3 linked regions of the Homo sapiens genome follow. The protein of the gene in region 1 purifies or fractionates together with the protein of each later gene. This does not show direct contact. Each region holds a gene or a part of one and is shown in the gene's direction. Other genes may lie near its edges. The genes, in order: ZNF462, EHMT1 and AIFM1.

Region 1 (3,653 bases):
TTAAGATTTCTTTGGCTATCCAGGGTGTGGTTCCATGGGTTGTTGTAAAGATTAAATGAGATAACACAGAAGACCTTCACCCAGTTCCTAGAATATAACAATCACCTAATAAATGATAAGCCTGCAATGTAGGTGTTATTTTTGTGATTTCACAAATGGGAAAATAAGGACCCAGGAAATTTAAGAGCATGTTCAAAGTAAAAAACAAAACAAACAAACAAACAACAACAAAAAATATAAACCCTGGAGACCAAATTCAATTCAAATTTACATCTTCTGGCTCCAAAGGCAAGCCCTCTTCTTACCCTGCACACCACTTTCCCAGTGCTTCGAGTAGTGTAATCTTCACTGAAGGGGACCTGACCCTGAAATCTGTGGATTCAGTGGCCCTTGGGACCTTGCTGTAAGGAGCAGTTTTGCAGAATTTCTTTGTGTTTTCTGCTTGTTCTGTCTGCAAACATTAAGGAAGCCTATTGGTGGGCTACTTCCCTCCAAGGTGTTCCCTGTTCCTTTTCCTGACTTGCACTCACCCTCCTACCATGATGCCAGGGCTAAAGACTATGGGTTTGCGAAGGGGGCCCCAGTTTGGCTCTTGAACCCCTGACCAAGACAGTCAGCAGGAAATGACAGCCAAGGTACACTACCCTTTCAAAAACCCTGTGCCTGTATTAACCTGAAAAATACATGGACAAATAAAACATCCTTACCATATAGGTTGATTGTTCTTATAAAGTTATTATTTTTATTAGTAGAGGCTGTATTAATCCATTTCTTACAAGGAAAACGGTTGTGATCGGAGAAGCATGGCTTCTTTCTTTTTTCTTTTTCAAACCATTTCATGAGTATGTTCTTTACAATGATTTCTTAACATCTCTGCACTGTTACCGGAGTTTTCTGGGAGAGGATACTTTTGACAGAAAGACTCCTTTTTCTTCATGACGCTCTGTGGCCTTGCCTTTTCTCCTCTGGAAATAAACTGTTTCTCATTGGATATTATTATGGCTTTTTAATCTCTAAAGCTGAGCATGTGTGATTTCAAAGGTTATAAGCATTATAAAGGCAAAATACCCTTCTAGGCTTCTGCTCCCCTATGACTCCTTATAAAAAAGAAAAGGAAAGAAAGAAAACTCGAATTTAAAACATGGTGGTTGAGATGTGTGTGGTATACCAGGCAGACCTCCTTATTTTACCCTACTTGGCAGCCCCCTTTTACTTGGCACTGTGGCATTACACTGGAGTGGTTTGGCTGGAAAGAACTTCAGGGTCTCCTCTTCTCACTGGAAAAAGTATAGTGTCCACATTCGTGAGCTTTACCACATGGGGGAACAAAAAGCCCTCAGGGTGGAGAAGCACGTATTCCTCTCAGAGGGTGGGGGATTTACATGAGTAACTTCCAGTCACATTAATGGGAATTACAAGCCTAAACCTTCCCTTCCCCCTCGCCGATCCTTGAAAGAGCAGCCTCCTTTGTCCCATCTCTCCTTTGAATAGACCAAGAATCAACTTTCCACCATCTAGGTGTATTCTTGGCAGGAAAAAGAAATACACACAATAGCCTCGGGTGTTTCTGCTAGACATCCCAGCTTCTAGGAGCAGAGGGCAGGAGGTGGCTTGCGTGCAGCTCTCAGGCTGGTGGAGAGCTCTTGGAAGTGTGGCCAGTGCCCAGTGGCCTCCTCCTTTGAGGATGGAACTTAGTATGTGCCATTGGAAAGGACAGATGACTGGTTTCCTATTTACAGATTAAGGGTAAAGAAACAAGTGTACCAGGAACATTATTCCTCTTGTTGGCAATTTAGACTTTTATCAGACACCCTCAGTTTAGGGGGTTCACAGCCTCGCAGCCACCCCACTCCCTACCTCCTTTCTAAATGCAAGTGCCGGACTGAATATGGACACGCTGCAGGTCCTGCCTAGGAAGCTCAGGGAAGATTTGAAAGAGAAGAATCCAGGCATGAAGAAATCAAAATTAACCCAAGCAGAATCCTCCCCACCCCCCTCTCATTATGCAGTTGGGGAGGAGTCAGGAAGGCATTCTGTTGATTTCTTGCCCAAGATAATCCCTGCTAAGGAATTAATGCGCAGAGCAGATGGTGCTGTCTCATTTCCAATGAAAAGAATCAAGGAAGATAGTCTGTGCAATTATTTTTAATGGCTTGTGTGGTGATCTTCTTAATTTGTGAGAAAATGTTTCATCTTTTGTTAAATCTGGCCCCAGTCACATAGCTGTTTGTGCTGAAGATTAAGGCATCACAGAGCCCCCCATCCTGTTAACATCGTCCTGAGAATCTTATTAGATGGGGCATTTCAACCAGGAGGCATCTTCCTGTAATGTCTTGTATGTGTGGACCAGAGTGATCAGAGTGTAAAGATGATCAACACTTCCCTGTGCGATGCCCTCACTTTGCAACACGGCTGCAGAACTGGCAAGGTCCTGCTGTTTATTACCTACATGAAGACTTGGCCCTCTGTGGTATAATGAAACACATATGGGCTAGGAACTCGGGCTAACACAATGGCCATATAATCTCTTATCTTTGAGTTTGCCAGGAGACGTGGCCTGAAAACAGTTAAACAGCCAATCCACATTTATCAGACTTCTACCATGTGCCTAGTACCATGGAGGAAACAAAACAACTAAGTCAATATTTGATGTTTACAACAGACCGTCCAGAAATGTCTGCATATCCCCGTATTCATGAATACCACCAATTGAGGGGTAGGTGCCAGGCAGCTGGCCAGGATCTCTCAATAGCAGGGGACATGTGTTCACATACTGGTTCCCACTCATCCAGATAAATGTTCATGGTAGATTCTTCGCTTGCAGATCTCATTCAGTGCACATAACCGCCCTGTAAGGTATTGATTATAATGTCTATGATGGATGACCACAAGTCATGAGCCTTCAGCCTTACTTGGAACAAGTAGAAACCCTGAGGTCCACAACACATAACCTGGTCCAGGGCTTTCGGTAGCCTATGTTCTTTTCAGTGAACAAAGATAAACCTGTGTCAAAAAGGAAATGAATAGATGCTAGCCTGTGAGGCACTGATATAAATCATCACACAAGGGAGAGAATAAATCGGAAAAAATAATGCTCAGATTCCTTTGGAATCTCGGGCAAGCGGCTCTTCAGTCAAGAAAGACCCAGATTTTGTGATAGAAGCATTGGGGAGGTGAGGCGAAATGAGGTCTTGGGGCCCAAGAACCAGAAACAGTTCTCGAATGCTATTCAAGGAATGCCCTAAGGGGGAAACCTAAGAAAAAGTGAGGAATCTGGAAATTGCTTTCACCACATGGCTTTATCAGTGAAGGTAGGAGAGAGGGTATCCTAATGAATGCTGACTTACCTATTCTGCTGATTCCCACAGCACACAGGTAACACTTCTGCTTTCTCTTTGCAGAGCTGATGAGATTTTCTGACCACGGGGCTGCTCTTAACACTGAGAAGCGTTTTCCATGTGAATTTTGTGGACGGGCGTTTTCACAGGGCTCTGAGTGGGAAAGACATGTGCTGAGACACGGCATGTAAGTTGGGCCACTTCAAGGATGCCTTTGTCCAAAGCAAGAGGTAGGGAGGGAGGGAGGGGCTCTTGTTTTGGTTCCCCTGACAGTATGTACACCCCTCTGTGTCACATTTCTGGGCCGTGGGAGGA
Region 2 (3,653 bases), about 31 Mb from region 1:
GTGGGGCTGGTGGGCAGACGTCTGCCGGGCCTTCCAGCCTTCAGCTTCATGTGTGGGACGCGGAGCCCCATGAGCTTGAGGGGCTGGTGGGGAGATGTCCGCCGGGCCTTCCAGCCTTCAGCTTCATGTGTGGGATGCAGAGCCCCATGCTGACTGTTGTCTTGTGCTTCCCACAGACCCAAGAAGCTTCGCTTCCACCCAAAGCAGCTGTACTTCTCCGCCAGGCAAGGGGAGCTTCAGAAGGTGCTCCTCATGCTGGGTAAGTGCCTTCCTGCGGCCCGGGCACATGCAGCCGGCCCTGTGGCACTGAAAGAAGCCGAGAGCAGTTGTTACTCCTTCCTCAGGAGGCTGGTCTCGTTTTGGTTTTCTGTTTCTGTGTCTCCGAGTTCTCTGATGAGTGAGAATAGGTTGCCCACTGGTGTTGAGGCTTTTTATGGTGTTCATATCCAGTTACGCAAGATATTAGAACTATTCTCTACGAAGTTCTAATTTTTAAAAAGGAATTGGTATGTGATTATTAAATCAAGCAGAAATAGAGATTAAGGAAAAGCAAAACTAGTGAGTTGTGGCCCTGAGATGTGTGGTGATGACGCTGAGATGTGTGGTGATGACGCTGAGATGTATGGTGATGATGCTGAGATGTGATGACGCTGGGATGTGTGGTGATGACGCTGAGATGTGTGGTGATGACGCTGAGATGTGTGGTGATGACGGCATCACTGAGATGTGTGGTGATGACGCTGAGATGTGTGGTGATGACGCTGAGATGTGATGACGCTGGGATGTGTGGTGATGACGCTGGGATGTGTGGTGATGATGCTGGGATGTGTGGTGATGACGCTGAGATGTGTGGTGATGACGGCATCACTGAGATGTGTGGTGATGACGCTGAGACGTGTGGTGATGACGCTGAGACGTGTGATGACGCTGGGATGTGTGGTGATGACGCTGGGATGTGTGGTGATGACGCTGAGATGTGTGGTGATGACGGCATCACTGAGATGTGTGGTGATGACGCTGAGACGTGTGGTGATGACGCTGAGACGTGTGGTGATGACGCTGGGATGTGTGGTGATGACGCTGAGATGTGTGGTGATGGCATCACTGAGATGTGTGGTGATGACGCTGGGATGTGTGGTGATGACGCTGGGATGTGTGGTGATGACGCTGAGATGTGTGGTGATGACGGCATCTCACTGAGATGTGTGGTGATGACGCCGAGACGTGTGGTGATGACGCCGAGACGTGTGGTGATGACGCCGGTATGTGTGGTGATGACACTGGGATGTGTGGTGATGACGCTGGGATGTGTGGTGATGACGCTGAGATGTGTGGTGATGACGGCATCTCACTGAGATGTGTGGTGATGACGCCGAGACGTGTGGTGATGACGCCGAGACGTGTGGTGATGACGCCGGGATGTGTGGTGATGACGCTGGGATGTGTGGTGATGACGCTGAGATGTGTGGTGATGACGGCATCACTGAGATGTGTGGTGATGACGCTGAGACGTGTGGTGATGACGCTGGGATGTGTGGTGATGACGCCGGGATGTGTGGTGATGACGCCGAGACGTGTGGTGATGACGCCGAGACGTGTGGTGATGACGCCGGGATGTGTGGTGATGACGCTGGGATGTGTGGTGATGACGCTGAGATGTGTGGTGATGACGGCATCACTGAGACGTGTGGTGATGACGCTGAGACGTGTGGTGATGACGCTGGGACGTGTGGTGACGACGCTGAGACGTGTGGTGACGACGCTGGGACGTGTGGTGACGACGCTGGGACGTGTGGTGACGACGCTGGGACGTGTGGTGATGACGCTGAGATGTGTGGTGATGACGGCATCACTGAGATGTGTGGTGATGACGCTGAGACGTGTGGTGATGACGCTGAGACGTGTGGTGATGACGCTGGGATGTGTGGTGATGACGCTGGGATGTGTGGTGATGATGCTGAGATGTGTGGTGATGACGCTGGGATATGCGGTGATGATGCTGAGATGTGTGGTCATGACGCTGGAATGTGTGGTGATGACGGCAGTCGATGTTTCACCTGTGCTGATCGCAGCAGCTGTGGTGTGGACAAAGTAGGCTTCAGCTATAGGTATTTTATAACAGGCAAACCGATTGCATTAGATTTCTAATACGCAAAAGCATACTTGTTAGAGAGCCTTCCCAGTGATAATTTGGTCTCTGAGCTCATAGCTTTAGGCTTGATTTCTCTGACGTTCATCGTCTCTGGGTTGAAAAGGATGATTAAGAAGCCCTTTACTGGACAGTACGTCAAGTAAAAAGAAGTGAAACTATTTGCTTTTAAAGAAAGGTTTATTTATGTTGACCAGCAGTTTTAATCATTTTGTCATGGACTTCACAGGACACCTGTGAAGGTCACCTCACTGCTCCGTTGCTCACCGTCCTCTCAGACCTCCTGGGAATTGACCGATGCTCAGGCCTCTGTCCCCGGCCTTGCTTGCTCCCCTAGGGTGTGTCTGCCCTGGTCAGCCGCCTCACTGGGCCTGGGGCGGCCATGGCCAGGCCACACAGAAACACAGAAGGAACCTCAGAGTTAGAGCAGGGTGGTAAAGGGAAGAGCGTGCCTTGCCGAGTTAGTTCTGACAGAGGGACCTGCCTGTTCAATTCCGCAGGAGACTAGCACACTCAAGTCTCAAGTCCAGAGGATGGTGCTGTGGGCGGGTTCCGGCGTGGCTCGAGGTGGCTGTTTATGTGGAGGATGGTCATTTGTGAGTGCTTGCCAGCCATCGTGACAGTCCTGAGCTGGAGTCTGTGGCTACATCTGAAATCATTAATAAAACTGTGTTTGTTCACAGTGGACGGAATTGACCCCAACTTCAAAATGGAGCACCAGAATAAGCGCTCTCCACTGCACGCCGCGGCAGAGGCTGGACACGTGGACATCTGCCACATGCTGGTTCAGGTGCGGCGGCACGGCGCCCTCCTAGGGCTCTTCACCTGCTCTCTTTTATTTTTACCAAAGTAAAATCATACCACGTTCGCGGTTCTTCCAGTGTAAGAGTTCCGTAGTGCTGTGAATCGGGCACAGAGTCAGCTTTTCTGCCCCCGAGTCCTGCAGGTGGATCAGTGCTTCCCGCTGTTTCTTCCGGCATTTACCACGGCCTTTGAGAAGAGCATGCCGCCATTTGGCTGTTTCTTGATTTGCTTTCTTTGGTTTTGGTTTTGGTTCTTCACACTCATGACGTCCCTCTGGGGGAGCCAAGCACTCGCAGAGGCACGGACGCCCCTCCCCCAGCCCCGTTGACTGGCTCCCATTTTGTTTAGATCAGATCGTGTGAGCATTTTCAAGCTGAACCACGTCGTCTACAGGGTATGTTGTGTCTGTCGTTAATCACTGGCTTGTGTTTCTGTTGGTTGAGTTGACTCTGCCACCTGCTAATTTATTCTGAACCATCTGAACGCTGCCCGCTTGTCTCTGGGTTCAGACACACGACGCTGTTTGTCCCCCTGTGACGCCCCTTCCCTGATCCCGGTGTTGGATCCCCTGTTTCTCAAGTGCCAGGTTTGAGTCTGGTGCAGTCTGACTTCTGATCCTTTGTGTGTGACCTATTATTTCTGGAGACTTTAGGAACTTTCCTTGAACCCCACTGGTCTGAAGTTGTACCTCATTGTAATG
Region 3 (3,653 bases), on another chromosome or scaffold:
CATCACTCTATGTCTGCATTCAGACACAGAGGAGCAGATAGGTTAGATAATAGACATTTTCTGTTCTATAATATTTTGTTTGGTCACCAAACAGTGCTGCCCATGTTATCAAACTGATCACCGACTCCCTGACTTTAGGTTCAAATGTTTGAACGTTTTTCTCTATTTGGAATCCTTCTCACCTCTTTAAAAAGGAAACTGAGCTCCTTGTGGGCAAGGATCCTGGCTTCCTGGACACTGCCAAATGTGACTTCGTTTTGAAGCCTAAAAGATGAGTCTTCCCCCGTTGTTTCTGCTGAGACAAGGCTTTGCAGAAGAAATTCTTTGGCAGCTCAGCCCTTTCTGTAACCAGTTAATAAGTTACATTTTCTAGAAATGTTCTAACTTTTTGAGGGAGTTACTGCATGTCTTAGCTTTCTTCTAGATCATGTTTCCAAAAGTTGCCTGCTCATGTGAATCGAGTAGAGAACCAGTTCCTAACCTTCTCCAGGAGATAATTCTGGGAATCTGTATTTTAACAAGCCCCTTGACATTCATATGATCAGACAAGTTTGGTATATACTGTTTTGGATGAGTAGTGACTCTTCCCCTTCTGTTTTGCTGACGTAAGGATTAAAAAACCAAACTGAGCAATCTGGAGTCTCTTGTGATTTGTATCAAGCTCATTTTCTCATATTCAGAATAGTAGCAGCCATTCTCCTAAATTAAACACTACCTGAGGACATGGATTATGTCCTATTTATTTTTGTGTCCTTAGCATCTTGTACCATCTCTGGCACATGGTAAATTCTCGTGACTGAACCCTAGTACAGCATTGTGAAGGACTTAACTTTGCAGAAGAGAGATTTTATTTTGTTATCTAAATAATTTTTCCTTGTGTGTCTTTCATCAGAATGGTTCACGCTGTACTATAGTTATTACTACTCTGTTTCTTCTAAAATTCCAGCAAGGGTTGATATTAAAAAATTAAAAAAGGCTGATAGCTAGGCGTGGTGGCTCACGCCTGTAATCCCAGCACTTTGGTATGCCAAGGTGGGCAGATCACTTGAGGTTGGAAGTTCAAGACCAGCCTGACCAACATGGAGAAACCCCGTCTCTACTAAAAATCAAAAATTAGCCAAGCGTGGTGGCACATGCCTGTAATCCCTGCTACTCGGGAGGCTGAGGCAGGAGAATTGCTTGAACCCGGGAAGTGGAGGTTGCGGTGAACCGAGATCACACCACTGCACTCCAGCCTGGACGACAGAGCGAGAATCTGTCTCAAAAAAAAAAAAAAAAGGCTGATAAATAGTTGTTGGATCCCTTGTAAAGAATCATTTATCTACAATGGACAGACTATCTAGGCTTGTCCTGTGTTTTTTTTTTTTTTTTTTTCTTCAAACAGAGTCTTGCTCTGTTGCCCAGGCTGGAGTGCAGTGACACAATCTCAGCTCACTGCAACCTCTGTCTCCTGGGTTCAAGTGATTCTCCTGCCTCAGCCTCCCGAGTAGCTGGGATTACAGGCACCTGCCACCACGCCCAGCTAATTTTTGTATTTTTAGTGGAGACGGGGTTTCACTGTATTGGCCAGGCTGGTCTCGAACTCCTGACCTCGTGATCCGCCCACCTCGGCCTCCCAAAGTGCTGGGATTACAAGTGTGAGCCACCGCACCTGGCTGTCCTGTGTTTTCTCCATGCTGGAAAAATCAGTTTGACCCTCAGGAAACAAGTCTCAAGAACGTATAGATCTCTTAACCATTTAGGATCCCTGGGTGCCTCAATTGTGAAGTTGTGTTTTTGGAAAACGCCTTTTGGGAGTATGGAAAAACAGGAAATCACAAAACCTACAGAAATGAACTTGCTAGTTTAGCTACTATTCTAATGCTGGTCTATGGTGTTTGAGGTTACTCATTTATGATTAAGCAACCTAAAATAAATGGAATCTGGCTAAAGCTTTTTTTAAAAAAAACTCTTAAGTTTATTTTTTCATTTTATTTATTTATTTATTTATTTATTTATTTATTTTTAAGTAGAGACGGGGTTTCACCATGTTGGCCAGGCTGGTCTCAAACTCGTGGTCTCAAGTGATCCACCAACCTCGGCCTCCCAAGGTGCTGGGATTACAGATGTGAGCCACCGCGCCTGCCCTGGCTAAAATTTCTTTGCAAAGAATTATTTAAAATGTTCAGTTATCCGGGCACGATGGTGCATGCCTGTAGTCCCAGCTATTCTGGAGGCTAAGGTGGAAGGATCACTTGAGCCCAGGAGTTTGAGTCTAGTCTGGGCAACATACTGATACCTTTTCATTTAAAAAAAATTTTAATAGTAATAAGAATGTTCAGTCAATATCAATAGAATTAGGAAGAATTTCTATTTCCTTCCTTCATTAATTCAACAAATATTTATTGAGCAAACATCTGTGTGTCGTCTGGCGCTGTTGCACAGGTCAAACTGGCTTCTTAAGAATGAAATCCTAAGTGTGAGGAAGAAATTGCATTGTATGTGTGGTCTGACTGCAGAAAACCTAAAATAAGTAAACTGCTGCCATGATGAAAAGTCAAGGAGTAAGTTGGCTTTTCCATGTTAGTAAGACAAGTGAAAAGGCATGTTTCAGTCACGATGTAATATTTCCTAAAATTTTGAAGCTATGGGGAGAAAGGTTTGGGAGGAATTTCATAGGGAAAAGAAAATGTGGGGAGGGGGAATGTAAGCAAACAATACTTAGTACATTTTACAAAATTAAAGTCACTTTGTAGGTATATAAAAAGTTTTAAAAGTTGGTTTATTAATGAGAGTAGTGTATTACATTTCTTTTCAAGCAGTAGTTTAAATATTAACCAGTTTACTTTTTTTTAAAGTCAATTTACTTTTCCAGCCTGGACAACATGGTGAAACCTCGTATCTACAAAAAATAGAAAAATTAGCTGGGCGTTGGTGGCTCACGCCTGTAGTCCCAGCTACACAGGAGGCTGAGGCTGGTGAATGGCTTGAGCCCAGGAAGCATAGGTTGCAGTGAGCCGAGATTGTGCCACTGCACTCCAGCTTGGGGACAGAGTGAGACCCTGTCTCAAAAAAAAAAAGTCCATTTACTTTTAAATGCTTTTTTCTTTTTTTTTTGGCAAATTGAGACAAAAGCTGCTGAACTTTCCTAAATCTACACTGTTAGTATTATCAGTTTGTGAAAAGCAAGCAGAAGGAGAATAAACATGAGTATGATATTAAAACAAATTTGTTATAATGTCTGTATTTAGGGTCTTCTGGAGGAATAAACAGAATTAAAAAAAAGAAAAACAAAAACAAAAAAAATTTATTTTTAGTAAATGAACCAGGGGTAGAGGTGGAGGACAAACTAAATTCATTGAACTAAATCACATGGAACTTTTCCTAACCAGTTTCATTTTCTAAGCTCTGAGAGTTACCACTTTCTACTTCTGATGGTTCATTATTTTTGTAAGCTTCTGAAAATCAAAAGCTTGCCCAGATTGAGATAAGTTTCTGCCCCGCTCACGTTTTTATTTTCATGATTTGTCATTATTTCCAAATCTCAACCATTTTATTTCATGTGGTGATGAAGAGTTCTAAAAGCAGGTAAGAAGAACAGTAAAGAAAAATACATTTCCTTTTCTAAGAGTGTAGATCTAAAGTCTCTTATCTGTAATTCAGAAATTGAAATT

What was found.
Region 2: the proteins of ZNF462 (region 1) and EHMT1 purify together in Homo sapiens (affinity purification with mass spectrometry; 3 studies listed by BioGRID and IntAct, with this or other methods). This does not show direct contact.
Region 3: the proteins of ZNF462 (region 1) and AIFM1 purify together in Homo sapiens (affinity purification with mass spectrometry; one large-scale study listed by BioGRID and IntAct). This does not show direct contact.

Annotation. Positions count from the first base shown.
Region 1 is NC_000009.12:107,006,144-107,009,796, forward strand, and holds part of ZNF462 (zinc finger protein 462), read left to right. Parts: intron 1-3,401; coding exon 3,402-3,525; intron 3,526-3,653. UniProt on the Homo sapiens protein: Zinc finger nuclear factor involved in transcription by regulating chromatin structure and organization. Involved in the pluripotency and differentiation of embryonic stem cells by regulating SOX2, POU5F1/OCT4, and NANOG.
Region 2 is NC_000009.12:137,779,459-137,783,111, forward strand, and holds part of EHMT1 (histone-lysine N-methyltransferase EHMT1), read left to right. Parts: intron 1-176; coding exon 177-259; intron 260-2,832; coding exon 2,833-2,939; intron 2,940-3,653. UniProt on the Homo sapiens protein: Histone methyltransferase that specifically mono- and dimethylates 'Lys-9' of histone H3 (H3K9me1 and H3K9me2, respectively) in euchromatin.
Region 3 is NC_000023.11:130,159,235-130,162,887, reverse strand, and holds part of AIFM1 (apoptosis-inducing factor 1, mitochondrial isoform AIF precursor), read left to right. Parts: intron 1-3,653. UniProt on the Homo sapiens protein: Functions both as NADH oxidoreductase and as regulator of apoptosis.